Regions from separate parts of the Homo sapiens genome. Here region 1 is linked to region 2. Evidence: fine-mapped expression QTL. Tissue or cell type: whole blood. Region 2 holds a variant in brackets; the other region holds the start of a gene. All regions are shown on one strand. Distances are from middle to middle. Region 1 holds the start of SNHG16 (small nucleolar RNA host gene 16). Region 2 holds the start of ST6GALNAC2 (ST6 N-acetylgalactosaminide alpha-2,6-sialyltransferase 2).

Region 1 (9,215 bases), 30 kb before region 2:
GGAGGGCAGTGATGAAGTCATGGCTCACTGCACAGCCTCAATCTCACGGGCCCCAGCAATCCTCCCACCTCAGCCTCCCATCCAGCTGGGACCACAGGCATGTGCCACCACACCTGGCTGTTTCTCATTTTTTATTGGTAGAGACGGGGGTCTCCCTATGTTGCTCAGGCTGGTCTTGAACTCCTGGGCTCAAGTGATCCTCCTGCCTTGGCCAACCAAAGTGTTGGGATTATAGGCATGAGCCACTGCGACCAGCCCAAAGACTGTTTTCTATTACTGTGGGTTTCAGATACCATGTCTTAAACGCTGTCAGTGACCACCCCAATACAGCAGGCCAGCTGACTGGATTTTCCCTTTGTACTCAGAGCCTGGGTCCCTGAAAAGCGCTGGGGACTTTTGCTTTCCTGTTTGTAAAGAGTCACTAGACTGTGACTCTTTCCATGTCAATAAATAGAGGTCTGCACTAGCCTGGTATAAAGGCTGTATAATAATTCCACGGTAGGTAAAACTCAAATGTCCTAGCTCTCACCAGCAATGAGTGCAAATGAGATCACAGTAACATCCACATTTCAGTCTCAACAGCTCTGAGCCCTTGCCGGCTCATTCAGGAATTCTGATGCATTCTCTGAAGTCCCCCTAGTTATTTCTGGGTTGGCTGCACAGTGTACTTTACATGTGCTCGGCACAAGGCCTCTCATTGTATTTCGCTCCAGCCTCTTGGCCACTGCCCAGCTGCCCTGGCATCCCCATCTGCCATGAACCTGCTGTTGGGGAAGCGATGTCCAGTCAGGTGTGAAAGCAACTTGGTGGCCTGCGGCAGAGTGAAGAGCTGTAAAGAATGGCCCTCACTATACACTGGGTGGCATCCAGGCCCAATACAGCCCTGCTAGAGCCCAGAGCCTCCATCTTCCACACATCAGCTCTGCAGCCTCCCATCCTCACTCTTCCTGCCACGAAGTGGCTCAAATGGCAGAGCAGGTGCCCATTGTTCCCCCTTTCAACCTCATTTCTGATTTTGTCCCCAACCACCCCTACAAACACATGAAAATCTTCTTCCTTCTCCCTTCCTCCCCGAAAACAAAAGTCCTTATACATAAGGTCACCTTATTCATTAGCGGTAAAAGCATGGATTCTACAGGCTGGGAGCAAACCCTGACCCTGCCAGTTACTGGTTATGTGAATTTGGGCAAGTTACCGAATTTCCCAGTGCTTCTGTTTCCTTATCCGTAAAATGGGGACAGTGATAGTGTTACCGGAGAGGAGTCCTGATCCAGACCCCAAAAGAGGGTTCTTGGATCTTGAGCAAGAAGGAATTTGGGATGTCTATAGACTAAAGTGAAAGCAAGTTTATTAGAAAAGTAAAGGAATAAAAGAATGGCTACTTGGCCAGGCATGGTGGCTCAAGCCTATAATCCTAGCACTTTGGGAGGCTGAGGCAGGCAGATCACTTGAGGTCAGGAGTTCGAGACCAGCCTGGCCAACATGGTGAAACCCTGTTGCTACTAAAAATACAAAAATTAGCCGGGCGTGGTGGCGTGCGCCTGTAATCCAGCTACTCGGGAGGCTGAAGCAGGAGAATTGCTTGAACCCAGGAGGTGGAGGCTGCAGTGAGCCGAGACAGCAGCACCACTGCAGCCTGGGTGACAGAGCGAGACTCTGTCTCAAAAAAAAAAAAAAAAAAAAGGCTACTCCACAGAGCAGCCCTGAGGGCTGCTGGTTGCCCATTTTTATGGTTATTTCTTGATTATATCCTAAACAAGGGGTGGATTATTTACGCCTCCCATTTTTAGACCACATAGGGTAACTTCCTGATGTTGCCATGGCATTTGTAAACTGTCATGGCGCTGGTGGGAGTGTAGCAGTGAGGACGACCAGAGGTCACTCTCATCGCCATCTTGGTTTTGGTTTTGGTGGGCTTATTTACTGCAAACTGTTTTATCAGCAAGGTCTTTATGGCCTGTATCTTGTGCCGACCTCCTGTCTCATCCTGTGACTTAGAATGCCTTAACCGTCCGGGAATGCAGCCCAGTAGGTTTCAGCCTCGTTTCACCCAGCTCCTATTCAAGATGGAGTTTTCTGGTTCCAATGCCTCTGACAGTAGTACTTCATCGCATTGTGAGGATTAAACGAGTTCATACATGTACAGAAACCAGTATAGGGAATGGCACCTGGTAAGTGCTATGAAGTATTAGCTATCATTACTATCTTGTCTACAGTAGGTCACCAGCCCGCTAGCAGCTTTTGGGAAATTCCACACTTAGAATTCCCACTGTAAGTCTCAAATGAAAGGAACTATGTTTGCAGGGATAGAACACATTCTTCCTTTCAGTATTACACAAAATAACGTGTCTTCAAGGGTAAGGTAGAGAAACCTAATGGCCAGAATTACTGCTGAATGAATTAATGATTATTTGCTGAAGACTTACTGTGAGCATAGCAGGTAAATACCAAACCCTGCACTGTTAAGAAATTAAAAAGAAAAAAATAAAAATAAAAAGAGGCTGGGCGTGGTGGCTCACGCCTGTAATCCCAGCACTTTGGGAGGCTGAGACGGGTGGATCACCTGAGGTCAGGAGTTTGAGAACAGCCTAACATGGAGAAACCCCATCTCTACTAAAAATACAAAATTAGCTGGGCGTGGTGGCGCATGCCTGTAATCCCAGCTACTCAGGAGGCTGAGGCAGGAGAATCACTTGAGCTTGGGAGGCGGAGGTTGCCGTGAGCCGAGATCGTGCCATTGCATTCCAGCCTGGGCAACAAGAGCAAAAGTCCATCTCAAAAAAAAAAAAAAAAAAAAATAATAATAATAATAAAAAGAGACTTCTGCTCTTGAAGAGCTTACAATCAAATGAAAGGAGGTAAACATAAGCAAATGTGGTAATTTGAAGATAAGTATCTGCAACATATTACCATCTGCAGGACAATATAACCCACACCGAAGGCCACAGAGATCACTGTTAATGGGTGGATGAGAACAGGGAGACTGGAATGGAGAAAAGGCTCTCGGTCTTGCAAACTTAAACTAGCTTTCAAATAGGTGCAAATTCTGGCCCTGATTGTTGATGTCGTTTTTGCCTTATTTTTATTTCAAAAACGAAGCCAGACCGGGCGCAGTGGCTCACCTTTGTAATCCCAGCACTTTGGGAGGCCAAAACAGGAGGACTGCTTGAGGCCAGGAGTTTGAGACCAACCCGGGCAACATAGTGAGACCTCATCTCTGCAAAATAAAAATAATCAGCTGGGCGTGGTGGCGCTCGCCTGTCGTCCCGGCCACTCAGGAGGCTGAGGCGGGAGGATCACTTGAGCCCGGGAGGTCCAGGCTACAATAAGTTATGATTGCACCACTGCACTCCAGCCTGCGTGCCAGGGTGAAACCTTATCTCAAAAACAAACCAAAAAAACCCAGAAACAAAAAAAAATGAAGCCAAGGTGTTTGCCTGAAAAATAACACTCAGAAGAGCAGTGGGTGTTACATCATTCTCCGTTCTTTTCGTAATTCAGCTCGTGACACTTGCCTTTTTTTCTCTTCTCGGAATGCCCCGGGCCCCTGGGCAGCCGCGGAGGCCGAGCCCCGTCGCTCTCCAGCGCTCCTTGCCGCCCGCGCCTCGGCTTCACCGGCCTCGCCCCAAACTTAAAAACACCTGAGCAGGAGGTTGAACGATTCCCTCGGAATCTCTCCTCTTCACTAACCCAGCGAACCACCCCAAATGCCCCTATCCTCCCCCAAATAAAATCCGCAGAGCAATTAACAAAGATACTCGGCCAAGCCCCGGTTTCCTCATCTGTCCCTGCCCCCTCGAACTTTCTGTGCTTCCCCAGTCTCGACCAGGGACAAACTGTGTTGAAGCTCAATGACTTTCTGGCAGAAGTGAACCTCCAGCTTCGTTTTCTGACAGCCGTGGTTCTTCACAGGCCTGGTTTCCCACTCCGGACCCTCCACTGCCCCTGGTGGCGGCCACCATCTTACCCCCAGCTCCAGGGTCGCGCTGAGGACGCGGCCAGCCCCCAGCCGCCGTAGTTTTGAACTACATTTCCCACCAGCCCTTTCTCAACATCGCGAGAGTTCCGGAGAGATTGCCGAGAAGACTTGCGCGCAGGGGCGGTCTCGCGTTCTTTTCGAGGTCGGCCGCGTGGCTGGAAGACATGGCCACTCCAGTCGGTGTTGAGCACGGCGAGCAGTCTCAGGCCTTTAGTGATGATGGTAAGGCTGCCTGGGTGGGAAAACGGGGTCTTCCTTGACACGACACTAACATACTTGGCTTCCCTTCCTCAGAGACGAAGTGGTGACGATAATCTCGGTTTCTCCCTCATAGGGTGGTTAGGAGGGTTAAAAGTACTGGATGAGAAAATGCTTTCCAAACGTTGAGAAAATGTTACTATGTGAAGGGAGAGAGCTCAAGCCCGTCCTCGGCGTCATAGGGCCGGCTTCTGCGGGGGAGAGCGCCTAACAACCTGGGCAGCCCCGTGCGCCTCCGCCGCGCGTGTGCTGAGCGTCATGCCCAGGGGTCTTCGGTGCCCGCGCACGGGCAGACTCTGACGATGGTGGTTCTTAATTCAGCATCAGGAGTGTTAACGTGTGAAGACGTGATTCCGCTTGGAGTGTCTTGAGGACGGCCCCAATCGGTAGTTCATATTTAGCTTTACAGATAGGAGTCAATAGGATTGTAAACTTCTGGAAAGCCGTAGTTTTAACAACGAGCCTTTTTTCCTCCCCCAGAGGCCTTTCTTTGTTTGGCATCTGCAGAGACGGTGAAAAGCAGAGCTCCAGGTTGAAGGATCAGAGTAATAGATGGAGCCCTTAACATGAGTAAGAGTGGGTGCAGGCAGGGCCTGAGTGGTCACTAGAAATGAGAAAGCACAGTTGGTGCCATCACATACATTCACCTCCTGCTTTATTCTGAAGTTCAAGTATGAGAATACGTGTTGACATACAAGCCAGCTATGGTAAGAAATTACTCAAAATTCAGAATGCTAATTATTTTAATGATAAAAATGAGTAGCGTCTTTGCCCGTGTGATTTGGGGCCACTAGGTGTCATTGTAACCAGCGTGGATCCTCGTTAGGGCATGCAGGGATGAAAGAGACATGGCAAATGAATTTTGGATCGCTAGGATTTAGGAATCTTTGTTATTGGCTGAGCTGAGGATGATTTAAAGTTATCCCTGTCTGAAATGGTATCTTTTGTGAGGAGGTCTGACTTGCTGAGGCTCAGCTGTTTAATACAAATCTGGAGAATAAACCTTAAGGTGGTTTCTGTTAGAATGAAGCCTGTTATCCTTCTCTTTTAGATTAAAGGTGGTGGCTGTGGCCTTGAAAACAGTCATGTGAAAACTCATCACCTTAAGGTGTTAAGTGTAAGGATCTTCATGATGAAATTTCTGTAAATGGTGAGATTTTTAGTACTTTCATAGACTTGAATATGCTTATGGTCCTCTTTAAGTATTGGTTTGTTAGTTTTGGGGATGTGTTGGTCTTCCAGGGTTACGATTGCCCAGATAATGGAAGTAGTATGGAATTCCTTTTGATAGGGTCCTTGCCAAGCACTCTCATAAAGAGCATTTTTTGTTTGTTTGTTTTGAGACAGAGTTTTGCTCTTGTTGCCCAGGCTGGAGTGCGATGGTGCGATCTTGGCTCAGCGCAACCTCTGCCTCCTGGGTTCAAGCTAGTCTCCTGCCTCAGCCTCCCAAGTAGCTGGGATTACAGGCATGCACCACCACGCCTAGCTAATTTTGTGTTTTTAGTAGAGACGGGGTTTCTCCATGTTGGTCAGGCTGGTCTTGAACTCCCGACTTAAGGTGATCTGTGCTGGGATTACAGGCGTGAGCCACCTTGCCTGGCCATAAATAGTATTTCTAATATCAACCCCATATGAGGTAAATTTTTTTCCCCACTCTGCTGCTGAGTAAGTAAAAGTGAGGCGTAAAGAGTTCTTTTGCCCAAAGTTATACAAGCAGTTACTGAGTTAGACTGGCAGTTCTGAACTGGGGAGCGATGGTGTTCCTGGCATCTGGTGAATGCTACTATTAATAAATACCCTGGCTGGGCCTGGATATTTATCTCATGCCTGTAATCCCAGCACTTTGGGAGGCCGAAGCAGATGGATCACCTGAGGTCAGGAGTTCGAGTTCGAGACCAGCCTGGCCAACATGGTGAAACCTTGTCTCTACTAAAAATACAAAAATTAGCTGGGTGTGGTGGCGGGCACCTGTAATCCTAGCTACTTGGGAGACTAAGGCAGGAGAATCTCTTGAACCCAGGAGGCAGAGGTTTGCAGTGAGCTGAGATGGCACCATTGTACTCCAGTCTAGGCGACAAGAGCGAAACTCTGTAAATAAATAAATAAATAAATATCCTACAATGCATACAACAGCCTGCATGAGGAATAATTGATCCACCCAGTATGTCAGTAGAGCTGAGGTTGAGAAACTCCTGTATACCACACGTTAGGCTAACTAGAGATCTGAGCTCTAGTCTCAGCCTATTTTCTCACCAGAGTCTTGTTTCTTCATTTGTGAAACAGGGTTAGTGATTTCCAAACTTGATTATTACATCAGAGCCACCTACAAAGTGTTAAAATATACACATTCCTGGGCCTCACCTCCAGGCATGGGTGAGAATGGCTCTGGAGTGGAGTCCAGGAATCATGTGGCCAGTCCAAGAGCAAGTGGGTAGTAACTAGATCAGGGGTGTCAATCTTTTGGCTTCCCTGTGCCACATTGGAAGAATTGTCTTGGGTCACACATAAAATAAACTAACACTAATGATAGCTGATGAGCTAAAAAAAAAAAATCTCATAATATTTTGAGAAAGTTTACAAATTTGTTGGGCTGCATTCAAAGCCGTCCTAAAGTTTACAAATTTGTGTTGGGCTGCATTCAAAGCCGTCCTGAGCCACATGCAGGCTGTGGGTTAGACAAGCTTGAAGTAGATGATCTGATCTGTTTTTAGTGCAAGGATTTTATTATAGTGAGATTATAGTGCTGGCTATTTTTAAGTAGCTCTTGGGCAAATCTCTAATCCTCTGTCTTAAAAAACTGAAAGCCTGGAGGGCACGGTGGCTGACACCTGTAATCCCAGCACTTGGGGAGGCCGAGGCAGGTGGATCATCTGAGGTCGGGAGTTCGAGACCAGCCTGACCAACATGGAGAAACTCCGTCTCTACTAAAAATACAAAATTAGCCTGGCGTGGTGGCGCATGCTTGTAATCCCAACTTACTTGGGAGTCTGAGGCAGGAGAATCACTTGAACCCGGGAGGTGGAGGTTGCAGTGAGCCGAGATCGCGTCATTGCACTCCAGCCTGGGCAACAAGAGTGAAACTACTTTTCAAAAAAAGAAAGTCACATGCTTGCTCCACAAAGAATTTGCGTGAGGGAAGTGAACAATTTGATGAGAAAAAAATAGTTTGCGTGTGCTGTGGCTGTTAGTGCTATGGTCCAGCAGGTTGGTGGGAGCTGAGTCCATGATGATTTCAAGTTATCCCTGTCTGAAGGCAAAGAAAGGCCTTTCTGTGTGGAATTTGAATATCTGAAACTCAGTTTCCCAAGTTTGCCTTACAGAAATTTTAAGTTACTTGAGAGTTACTCTGTGTGTATCTTCTTAAGTAGTTTTTTTTCTTAATTTCTCTTCCCAGGTGCAGTCAGCCTCAGTTTCCAAAGCCGGAAAAGGATCCTCTAGTAGCCACGGTGTGGCAGCTGCTCTGAACCAGGACCTGGACCCGGACCCAAAGTGCCATGTCTTTAATGTGAGTAAGTAGACGAACTGGTAAACAGGCTTGGTTTGGTTTGGGGGAGTGGTAATCTTTTTTGCTTCCCCTGCTCTGGACTTAAAGCAATGGGGGCAGGGAGACTTTAGTAGCATTTTGTTGCTAGGTGTCTGCAATAAGAGACGAAACTGAACTGCTTTGCCGGAAACAAGTGAAATGATTGCTTTCCTGTTTGTAAGATTTGTTTACATCTTTCGTATCCGTAAGAAGTCCCACAAGCCTATGATGGTTAGTTATCCCTGTCTGAAAATCTGGACTGAGGGAAATAATCTATTCTGAGGCTTAAGGGTTTGGCTCCATGGTTTTTTTTTTGTTTTTGTTTTTTTTCCCCTTTTTTTTTCCCTCAGCATATCCTGCTGAGAGCCCAGTCTAGAGCATCATTCCTCTAAAACGTGAAAAGCAAATGAGTGATTGTCCTGCTTTCTCTAGTCCTTTGATTATGGCTCTGAGGATACAGGCTGTATGAGGTGGCAGGAATGCACAAGTACCCAGGATTTGATTTATGCCCTTATTGTGGAATGAAAGTGCTTGTTACATATTTCAAGAAAATGAATGCGCTCTTAGAAACAGATTGGAATGTAGGATGTATGCCAGCTTGTGGCAATGAGAATGCTTAATGACTCTGACCTTGCCTCTGCTCCAGGGTCCTGACATTTAGGGGAAACCACGGCTGTTTGGTTTCTATGTGCTTTGTTAAGGACGCCAGGGAGGTCTCCTAAGTTTGTAGCTTAGATCCTGTCTGAATGTCACGACTGGCATGTGAGCAAGAAAGAAACCAAGTGGTGCTGGAGAGTGGGGTGCCCAGCTTTGTTCCCACTGGAATGCCAGGCTTGAAGTGCACACAGATTGCCTTTCTTTTCTGTTGAAAGGGGAGGTGTGGGCCGGGCGCGGTGGCTCACGCCTGTAATCCCAGCACTTTGGGAGGCCGAGGCGGGTGGATCATGAGGTCAGGAGATCGAGACCATCCTGGCTAACAAGGTGAAACCCCGTCTCTACTAAAAATACAAAAAAATTAGCCGGGCGCGGTGGCGGGCGCCTGTAGTCCCAGCTACTCGGGAGGCTGAGGCAGGAGAATGGCGTGAACCCGGGAAGCGGAGCTTGCAGTGAGCCGAGATTGCGCCACTGCAGTCCGCAGTCCTGCCTGGGTGACAGAGCGAGACTCCGTCTCAAAAAAAAAAAAAAAAAAAAGAAAGGGGAGGTGTGTGCAAACTCTTTGTATTTAAGGTTGTGTTTTTGCTGGACACCAAAGAAGCTGTATTCTGGGTGAGATTTAATGAGCCTAAAAACTGGCCCCAGTAGTTTACAGCCTGCAAGTAAAACAGTGAAAAGGGTAGCTTATCAAGTGGTTATTGTCTGCTGAGTGGACTTGACTACAGAACTCAAGTAAACCATAAGATTTGACTTGAAATGTTTCTATCCAGAGGGAGTGCTTTCTGATAGTTGTTTACTGGC
Region 2 (9,472 bases):
GAGGCCCAGGTGGACGGATCACGAGGTCAGGAGATCGAGACCATCCTGGCTAACACGGTGAAAACCTGTCTGTACTAAAACATACAAAAAATCAGCTGGGCATGGTGGCGGGCACCTGTAGACCCAGCTACTCGGGAGGCTGAGGTAGGAGAATGGCATGAACCCGGGAGACAGAGCTTGCAGTGAGCCGAGATGGGGCCACTGCACTCCAGCCTGGGCGACAGAGGGAGACTCTGTCCCAAAAAAAAAAAGAAGATAATGTATTACTTGGGAGGCTGAGGTGGGAGAATCATTTTAGCTCAGGAGGTGGAGGTTACAGTGAGCCAAGATAGACCCACTGTACTGCAAGCCTGGGTGACAGAGTGAGACTGTCCCCAAAAGATTATTTTTATAAGAAAAGGAATTCATTTCTTACAGTTATGGAGGCTGGGAAGTCCAAGGTCGAGGAACCACATTTGGTGAAGGCCTTTTTTTTTTTTTTTTCTTTTCTGCTCCTTGTGGAGCAGGGCTACCCCATAGGCAGTGGTCCAGGGCAGCCAGAGGGCCTTGGTGTTGGTGGGGCAGGACGTCACATGCAGAGTGGGGCTGAGTTGCTAGATCAGGTCTCTTCCTTTTTGTAAAATTATTTTTAATTGGCACATACTTGCACATATGTATAGGGTACAGTGTGATATTTCTTTTTTTTTTTTTTGAGATGGAGTCTCGCTCTGTCACCAGGCTGGAGTGCAGTGGCGCGATCTTGGCTCACTGCAAGCTCCACCTCCCAGGTTCACGCCATTCTCCTGCCTCAGCCTCCCGAGTAGCTGGGACTACAGGTGCCCGCCACCACGCCCAGCTAATTTTTTGTATTTTTTAGTAGAGACGGGGTTTCACCGTGTTAGCCAGGTGAAAGCCAGGTCAGGAGGATCTCCTGACCTCGTGATCCGCCTGCCTCGGCCTCCCAAAATGCTGAGACTACAGGCGTGAGCCACCGCGCCCGGCCACAGTGTGATATTTCAATACGTGTATGTAATGTGTAATAATCAAACCAGCTAATTAGCATATCCATCACCTCGAACTTTTTTTTTTTTTTCTGGAGACAGGACCTTGCTGTATTGCCCAGGCTGGAGTGCAGTGGCGCGATCACAGCTCACTGCAGCCTCGACCTCCCAGACTCAAGGGATCTTCTTGGTCAGCTCCCGGAATAGATAGATGGAAGCACAGGCATGCACCACCATCCCCGGATAAGTTTTGTATTTTTGGTAGAGACGAGGTTTCGCCATGTTGCCCAGGCTTATATCAAACATGTATTATTTCTTTGCATTGAGATACTTTGTGTTTTAAACATCTTTACATAAAAGTGACAAGGATTCCTTTTCTTTTGAGACAGGGTCTCTCTCTGTCAACCAGGCTGGAATGCAGTAGTGCAATCACAGCTCACAGCCTCGAATTCCTGGCCTCAAGCTATCCTCCCACCTCCGCCTCCCAGAGTGCTGGGACTACAGGCGTTAAGTCACCGTGGCGGGGCAAGCACCCTTTGTTCTAAGAGTGCTGGACTCCTGATCACTGGCAAGCTGTTTCACATTGTTCTGCAACTTTTGGTGTATCCTTTGACAGCATCTGTGGAGACCAGATACTTATTTTGTTTTCATCCCGTTAGCCCCCCAGCAAGGTTGGTAGGGGGTGCGCAGATGGAAAAGCTCCAGGAAGGGAAAGGCTGGGGCTGGAGGCCTCTCCCTGAGGCTGCCGGGCCCTTCCCTCCTCCCAAACCCAGACTTCGCACGGCTTGGTCCGCCTTTCTTAAGCTAAGCGAAATCGTTTTGCGGCTTCTTCAGTCACCGGAACCACCACCTGCTAGAGGCCGGCTCCCAGGTTCTCCTCGTGGGACACCCAGGAAAGTGCCTAGGGAGGAGGAGGGAGTGGAGCGCAGGACGCGGCGCGGGGAGGAGAACGCGGATGGAGCCAGGAGTCACCCCTCTTTCCCTCGGGCGCCCGCCTCTTCGCGGATCGCGCCCGCACTGGGCTTATCCAGACACGGCGAGCGGAAGCCGGGGAGAAGGGAGCGGGCGCGGGGCGGACAGAGACCGCAGCGGGCGGGAAAGGCGACTGGCCGCGGCCCGACGGAGGGTCCCCGCGAAGTTGGAAACCGGAGACTTGGGCCCCTGCCCAAAAAGCAGAATCTGACGTTACCGAGGGAGAGTTCCCGACAAAAAAGGAAGTTTTTATCTGCTTCGGGGACCCAGCCAGATTTCGACAATAGAAAGTGTACTTATCAGGCCGGGGAGGACTTCACCAACAAGGGGCACCGGGGCGGGTCGCCAGTGCACAGGGGCGAGGTCTTCCTTGGACCCAGGCAAAGGCCGCGGGGTCCGGGCAGCGCGAGGTCAAGGCTGGGAGAGGGTTCTGGCGACAAAGGGCCGCGGCCGAGTCCTCGCTGAGAGCTGCCCCAGAGGGGTCCACGCGGAGGTTGGGCTGAGGGCTGCGGGCCGCCGGGGAGCCCTGGGCTGGGGACCCTCCCCGCGCCCTGGTCGCCCCTGCGCCCTCCCGCTCTGCGCTCGGCAGCCCCTACCTGGCTCCGGCCGCTGGCCCCGGGTACCGCTGCACCGCCGAGAAGTACAGGGCAAAGAGGAGCCCCGAGCAGGCAGCCGTGAGCAGGAGCAGCAGCCAGAAGAACGACCCGCGCGGGAGCCCCATACAGCCCCGGCCCGCGAGCGCCCCGTCCGCTGACGTCCCAGGCAGAAGGGAGAGAACCGGGTGGGCCGGGTGGCACTTGCGGAGGCGGCCGTCTTGCCCTGCCCCGCCCTGCCCGCCGGGTGCCTGCGGCGCCTGCCCGCCCGGCAGCTCCCTCTCGGCCCCGGCTGAGTGGCCAGAGGCTGCCGCACCCTCGGGAGCTGGGCGGCGGGTCCCCCGGGGCTGGAGTGTCGTCCCGGCGCCCAGAGCGCGCGCTCCTTTGGCCCTGCCCCCTGCCCGGGGGACTTCGGCAGCGGCCACTCCTGCCACTGCGCTCTCTCCAGAGCCCAGCCCCGGGAGGCCGCCAGTCTCGGGTTGGGCAGGGCGCTTTCCTCGCGCCGTCCGGGGCTAGCTAGGCGCGGGTAGACGCCGCCACCTGCTGCGCTGGCTGCGCTCTGCCCTCTGCGGGCCCGGCACTCGGCCTCTAGACTCTGTGGCGGGTGGGCGGCGGCCGGGAGGAGATGTGCCCGGCTCCCTCCAAAGGACCCTCAGATCTGTCAGTCTGCGGACGCCAGGACAGCTGGGAGGGGGCGGGCAGGGTGGAGGAGCAAAACCCGACAGCTCAGTCTCTGGGCTGGCGGTAGAGGGGGGAAAAGGGGGTGAGGTGGGGAGCTTGCCGTGATGGGTTTCGTGGGGGAGCTAAGGCTGTCAGCGCTTATTTGGTAACCATCCAGGGTGGCCAGTCCCCTCAATCGCATTGAGTTCCTTTCACAGAACGAGGCCAGTCAGAGAGACCACCTGAAATGTTCAGCACAACGGGTTCCCAAACTTATTGGCACCAGGGACTGGTTTCCTGGAAGACAATTTTTCCACGGAGGGGGGTGGGGGTGGGGGGGTTGGGGATGAAACTGTTCCACCTCAGATCATCAGGCATGAGTTAAGATGCTCTCATAAGGAGCCCGCAACCTAGATCCCTGGCATGCGCATTTCACAAAAGGGTTCGCACTCCTTTGAGACTCTAATGCCGAGGCTGATCTGAAGGAGGCGGAGCTCAGGCGGTAATGCTCCTTCCCCCTCCACTCACCTCCTGCTGCGATGCCCTGTTCCTAACAGGTCTCGGACCAGGCTTGGGATTGGGGACCCCTGGTCTAGCAGGCTCCAGCATCAGAAAGGGCTGGGAAGCTCAGCACCCGTGCTCTCTAAGTGGAACACTCCCTGGCAGTGAGTGATGGATGAGATGGGTGTGCTTCAGTGGCCACTGTTCGGCAAGCTGTGACATGCGGCAGGCTGTGACATGCCCCAGACTCCCAACTGTCAGCAGGCTGCAAGGATGAGAGGGACCTAGGCTACCGTGTCACGGGCCTTTGGCTCTAATCTGTTCTTCATGTAT[C/A]CGAGGAAGTCTGGGTGCAGCAACAGGTACCTGTCTGATTGCAAGGCTTCCCGAAAACCTCCCAGGGCCTGGGCCTGTGGTCAGGAATGGCCATTCAGTCCATCCAGTCTCAGTACTCCTACCAAGTCAGGGTCACTGGAGGTCACTCACATTGGGCCAGTTCTTTCCTTCACCCCAAGACTGCTCAGCAGAGCCAGACTCATCTTGCTACCCCGCAGATGGGCACTACTTGGAATTTATGGTGTCACGACTTTCATTTCAATCTTTATGGGTTTACTTGTCAAAATTCCTGTAGATGTTACTTATCCCCTGATCACTGGCTTCTCACATTTCCTCAGACCTTCTCTCTGTGCCCATAAATATCCCTCCTAGCCCTTGCTCTCAGTAAGTGCCTTACCCTCTACTTCATGGAGAAAAGGAGAATCATTCATTAGTAATTTATTCAACTTCCACTTACAAACCTACAAACTTGGCCCCCACACACAGCCCAGCCTCTCCCTGCCGGGACTCTAGTCTTTTTTTTTTTTTTTTTTTTTGAAACAGCCTGTTACCCAGGCTGGAGTGCAGAGGCGTGATCTCGGCTCACTGCAACTTCCACCTCCCAGGTTCAAGCGATTCTCCTGCCTCAGCCTCCCCAGTAGCTGGGATTACAGGAGTGCACCCCCATGCCCAGCTTTTTTTTTTTGTATTTTTAGTAGGGATGGGGGCTTTACCACGTTGGCCAGGCTGGTCTCAAACTCCTGACCTCAGGTGATCTGCCCACCTTGGCCTCCCAAACTGCTGGGATTACATGTGCGAGCCACTGCGCCAGGCCTCAGGACTCCAGTCTTAAGAGCTGGGGAGAGGGTGCTCTCCTCCTGTGTGGGAGTTAACCCCCTATCTGTGTTAATAATCCAGGTCCACCTCCAATGCCTTAAATGGCAGTACTCCCCTCACACCAAGATCTCCTATCCACCCACCTGGAGTTCTCCTTCCTCCCATCTTCAGCCTCACAGGACCTCCAGGGTCTCCATCCTTCCCTTTTCTCCCAGTGGGCCAACCCTCTCTCAGCAGCTTTCTTTCCTATCTAGGCAGGACTCCCTGGGTTATAATCTGAGCTACTCCTGCATCAGTAACCCAGATTCTCTTGTGTTCCTGGCTTTCTTCCCAGCAAAACTCTGACCTGGATTCACTCTTGCCTCTGCCTCTCCTGTGCTGCCTGTCCCTGGCCTGGCTGAGTGCTGCAGGGGTCAGGGGTCAGGTGTAGCTCATTCCAGAGTGTGAATTGGGAACACAAGTTTGGCCTCAGCTGGCTCTCAACATCAGCCATTTCCTTATCCTTGCTCAGCTCCAGCTTCTATCCTGCTCAACAATGATTCTAGAACTTACTTCTTTCCTCAAGCCTCCTCTTTTCCCAGCCATACCTGTGAGAAAATGCAGCCCATCAGGAGTGACCTTCAACTTCCCATGCCCCCAAGTTCAAAGTCATCTTTTGTTAAGAACTGTGCAGATTTTGCTCTCCTTACAAGCTAACCAATGAAACTGCCATAGTTCTGTGGATGCTGGTAGAAGACACAAGACTACTGGATCAGAGACAAAGGACTTTATTACTCATGGTGCAGCAAGCAACATAGGCATCATGTTTGTGTCACTTCTCTTTACTCCTCAAGCCCCATGAGAGTGATACAGAGAGGCCCAGGTGAGTGTTGCACACACAATGGGTTTGCAGCACAGCTGAGAATCCCTGAGATAAGGAAACCAGAATCTTTTATAATGGGCTGCAAGCAAACCTGCTCTTGTCCAAGAGGGAGACATTATCTTTATTACGTTGGATAGTGAGGAAATCTGCCCTCTGCTCCAGAGGGAGGCACTATCTTTATCTTCCAAGGCAGTCTGCTGTACCAACAATCTTTTTTTTTTTTTTTCTTTTTTAGACAGAGTCTCGCTCTGTCGCCAGGCTGGGGTGCAGTGGCACGATCTCGGCTCACTGCAAGCTCCACCTCCCGGGTTCACGCCATTCTCCTGCCTCAGCCTCCCAAGTAGCTGGGACTACAGGCGCCCGCCACCACATCTGGCTAATTTTTTGTATTTTTAGTAGAGATGGGGTTTCACCATGTTACCCAGGATGAACTCGATCTCCTGACCTCGTGATCCGCCCGCCTCGGCCTCCCAAAGTGCTGGGATTACAGGCGTGAGCCACTGCACCTGGCCTATACCAACGTTCTTGAAAAGAGCCTGGAACAAAAGGTCAGTTGGTCCCTCTGCTCACAGCATGATCCTGCCCATGCACCCTCACCTTATTGCTCCAGACTCTCCTCCTTCCAGGGAGAGCCAGCCTCTTCACTGTGACCTCCCATTCTTCAGCTCTTGCTTCAGCAGCCCTCCCTGCCCCCTCTGCAAGGTCCTTATCACAGCCTATGAACATGCCCCAAATAGCTCATCCTAAAAAGCAAAGCAAAGCAAAACAAACAAAAAACGCCATGGAGCTGGCCCCCTTCATAGCTACTCTCTTTTTCTTTCATCCAAGTTCTTGGTAGAGAGTCTATTCTGTCTCTGCTTCTTTTTGCATCTGACTTCCTTACCTACGATGCCATTGAAATTGTACCCACTGAAGTCACTAGCAACCATCATCCTTCCAAAGGGAGTCCACATTTTCCAGTTCTAATTCTGCTGCATCTGTCTCTCTGAATTTGACACTTAGCTCCCAGTAATTCCAGCCTGCAACTCTTTGTTCTCATGGTTTCAACAACCAGCTTTCTGTTTGTGACTCCTGAATTAGTCTCCATCTGAGGCCCAGATCTCTATCAGCTGCAAACCTGTTCAGCTGTGTATAAAGGCATCCCTGGAGACCTGCGTTACTTTTTTCTTTCTTTCTTACTGTTTTTTTTTCTTTCTTACTGTTTTTTTTTTTTTTTTTTTTTTGAGTCAGAGTCTCACTCTTGTTGTTCAGACTGTAGTACAGTGGTGAAATCATGGCTCCTGCAGTCTTTTTCTTTTTTTTTGAGACGGAGTCTCACTCTGTTGTCCAAGCTGGAGTGCAGTGGCATGATCTTGGCTCACTGCAACCTCCACCTCCTGAGTTCAAGCTGCCTTGATTCTCCTGCCTCAGCCTCCCAAGTAGCTAGGACCACAGGCGTGTGCTACCATGCCCAGCTAAGTTTTTGTATTTTTAGTAGAGATGGGATTTCACCATGTTAGCCAGGATGGTCTTGATCTCCTGACCTCATGATTTGCCCGCCTCAGCCTCCCAAAGTGCTGGGATTACAGGCGTGAGCCACCGTGCCCAGCTGGCTCCTGCAGTCTTAAACTCCTGGGCTCAAGCGATCCTCCTGCCTTAGCCTCCCAAGTAGCCAGGTCTATAGGCATGTGCCACTATACCCATCTAATTTATTTTTGTTTTAATTTTTGCAGAGACAGGGTCTTGCAGACACAGAGGGCCTACTTCTCATGGGTTTTTCAGGGCTAACTATGGGACTTGAGTATGTGTGGATTTGGTTTGGTTATACGGGCAGTCCTGGAACCAATCCCCCATGGATAATAAGGGATGACTGTATGTAAATACAATTATATAATATATAATTATAAAATTATACTTTTTATAATTACAGAATTTCCTTTACCAGAGTTGTTTTTTTTTTTTTTTGTCTCATGTGTATTTGAATCTTGTTTCAGCCTGAAGATTCCTTTAGTATTTCTTGTAATGTGTGTCTGCTAGCAATAAATCCTCTTACTTTCTGTTTACTTAGAAGTGTCTAGGCACCTGCCACCACACCTGGCTAATTTTTGTATTTTTAGTAGAGACAGGGTTTCACCACGTTGACCAGGCTGGAGTCCACTTTCACTAGAAAGTGGGGCTATAGAGTTCCTCATGCTGGCAGTTCATCTTTTGCAATTTTTTTTTTAAACAGTCTCACTGTATTGCCCAGGCTGGAGTGCAGTGGCGCAATCTCAGCTCACTGCAACCTCCACCTCCCGGGCTCAAACGATTCTCCTGCCTCAGCCTCCAGAGTAGCTGGGATTACAGGCACCTGCCACCACACCCGGCTAATTTTTGTATTTTTAGTAGAGATAGGGTTTCACCGTGTTGGCCAGGCTGGTCTCGAACTCCTGACTTCAAGTGATCCACTTGCCTCGGCCTCCCAAAGTGTTGGGATTACAGGCGTGAACCACCGCGCCCGGCCGCAATGGTTTTTAATTTAATGTTGACTTCCTCATTGATTTGTCATCTTAAAATTCTATTTTTTGAATCAGGAAAATTGATCTGGATGTTTGATAAATCTAAGGAATTGTTAAATTTTAAAATGTGTGGCTAGGTGCGGTGGCTCACACTGTAATCCAGCACTTTGGGAGGCTGAGGCAAGATGATATCTTGAGCCCAGGAGTTTGAGACCAGCCAGGGCAACCTAGTGAGACTCCATCTCTATTTTTAAAAAGAAAGAGGTCAGGTGCAGTGGTTCACACCTGTCATCCCAGCACTTTGGGAGGCCAAGGCGGGCAGATCACCTGAAGTCAGGAGTTTGAGACCAGCCTGGCCAATATGGCAAAACCCTGTCTCTACTAAAAATACAAAATTTAGTCTGGGGTGGGTGGCGGGCACCTGTAATCCCAGCTACTCAGGAGGCTGAGACGGGAGAATCGCTTGAACCCAGGAGGCAGAAGTTGCAGTGAGCCAAGATCACGCCACTGCACTCCAGCCTGTGAGACAGAATGAGACTCCGTCTCAAAAGAAAAGAAAGAAAGAAAATGTGTGATAGTAGCATTGTGGTTATTTTTTAAAAGTGTCCTTATTGTTAATAATACATACTGAATATTTACAAACGAATATGATACATGGAATTCTTTAAAAATAACCAAGTCTGGGCCGGAAGTGGAGAGTGGATGGGGACACAGATGAAACAAATTGGCTATGAGTGTGGCTCATTGTTGGGGCTGTATAATGGGGATATGAGGGTGCATTACAGTATTCTCTCTACTTTTGTATATATTCGAAATTTTCCCTAACAAAAACCTAAATTTTTCTTTTTAGCTGAAATATGCTTCATTAGATATTTCAAAACTATAAGGTTATCCTTAACTTCAATCAAAGTCTTTAAAAGTATATATACATGCTTTTCACATAAGATGAACTATGGATTACGGATTTGCAAAACCAAGAGATCAAAACTTCGAGTACTCTATGTTCTAAAACAACCACATGTAAGCATTTTGTAAAAACATATTTTTACTAAAATCAATTTATTTCTCAGTATCTGAAACTGGCATGAATGTCGAGCAAGTTCCTAATCAAAATGTATTAGATGTTCTAATTATGTGTCAGAGGCTGTTTTTGTCATTTCAATCAAAACCATTTTTAGATGATTGATTATTTTATGAAAAAAAGCAATGATGAAAATTGTTGCAGTTGTATTTCAAGAGTTTATAAAAAGACAAATTTATGCATTGAATTGAAGCTGA

Evidence for each region.
Region 1: SNHG16 starts here. The variant in region 2 is fine-mapped to the expression of SNHG16 in whole blood (INTERVAL, PIP above 0.99).

Annotation. Positions count from the first base shown.
Region 1 is chr17:76,553,657-76,562,871 of GRCh38, forward strand. SNHG16 (small nucleolar RNA host gene 16) reads left to right here and starts at 4,108. Exons shown (of 3, transcript NR_038111.1): 1 at 4,108-4,201; 2 at 7,632-7,742. It overlaps SNORD1C (small nucleolar RNA, C/D box 1C), which reads left to right and starts at 5,134; the gene lies at 5,134-5,213. It overlaps SNORD1B (small nucleolar RNA, C/D box 1B), which reads left to right and starts at 7,452; the gene lies at 7,452-7,537. It overlaps SNORD1A (small nucleolar RNA, C/D box 1A), which reads left to right and starts at 7,977; the gene lies at 7,977-8,050. RefSeq lists enhancers at 3,139-3,238, 3,728-4,528, 3,929-4,188, 4,529-5,330.
Region 2 is chr17:76,583,136-76,592,607 of GRCh38, forward strand. ST6GALNAC2 (ST6 N-acetylgalactosaminide alpha-2,6-sialyltransferase 2) reads right to left here and starts at 2,725. Exons shown (of 9, transcript NM_006456.3): 1 at 2,549-2,725. The coding sequence starts at 2,673. RefSeq lists silencers at 2,482-2,821, 2,872-3,161 and enhancers at 3,030-3,711, 3,712-4,392. The variant C/A (reference allele first, on the strand shown) is at 4,040.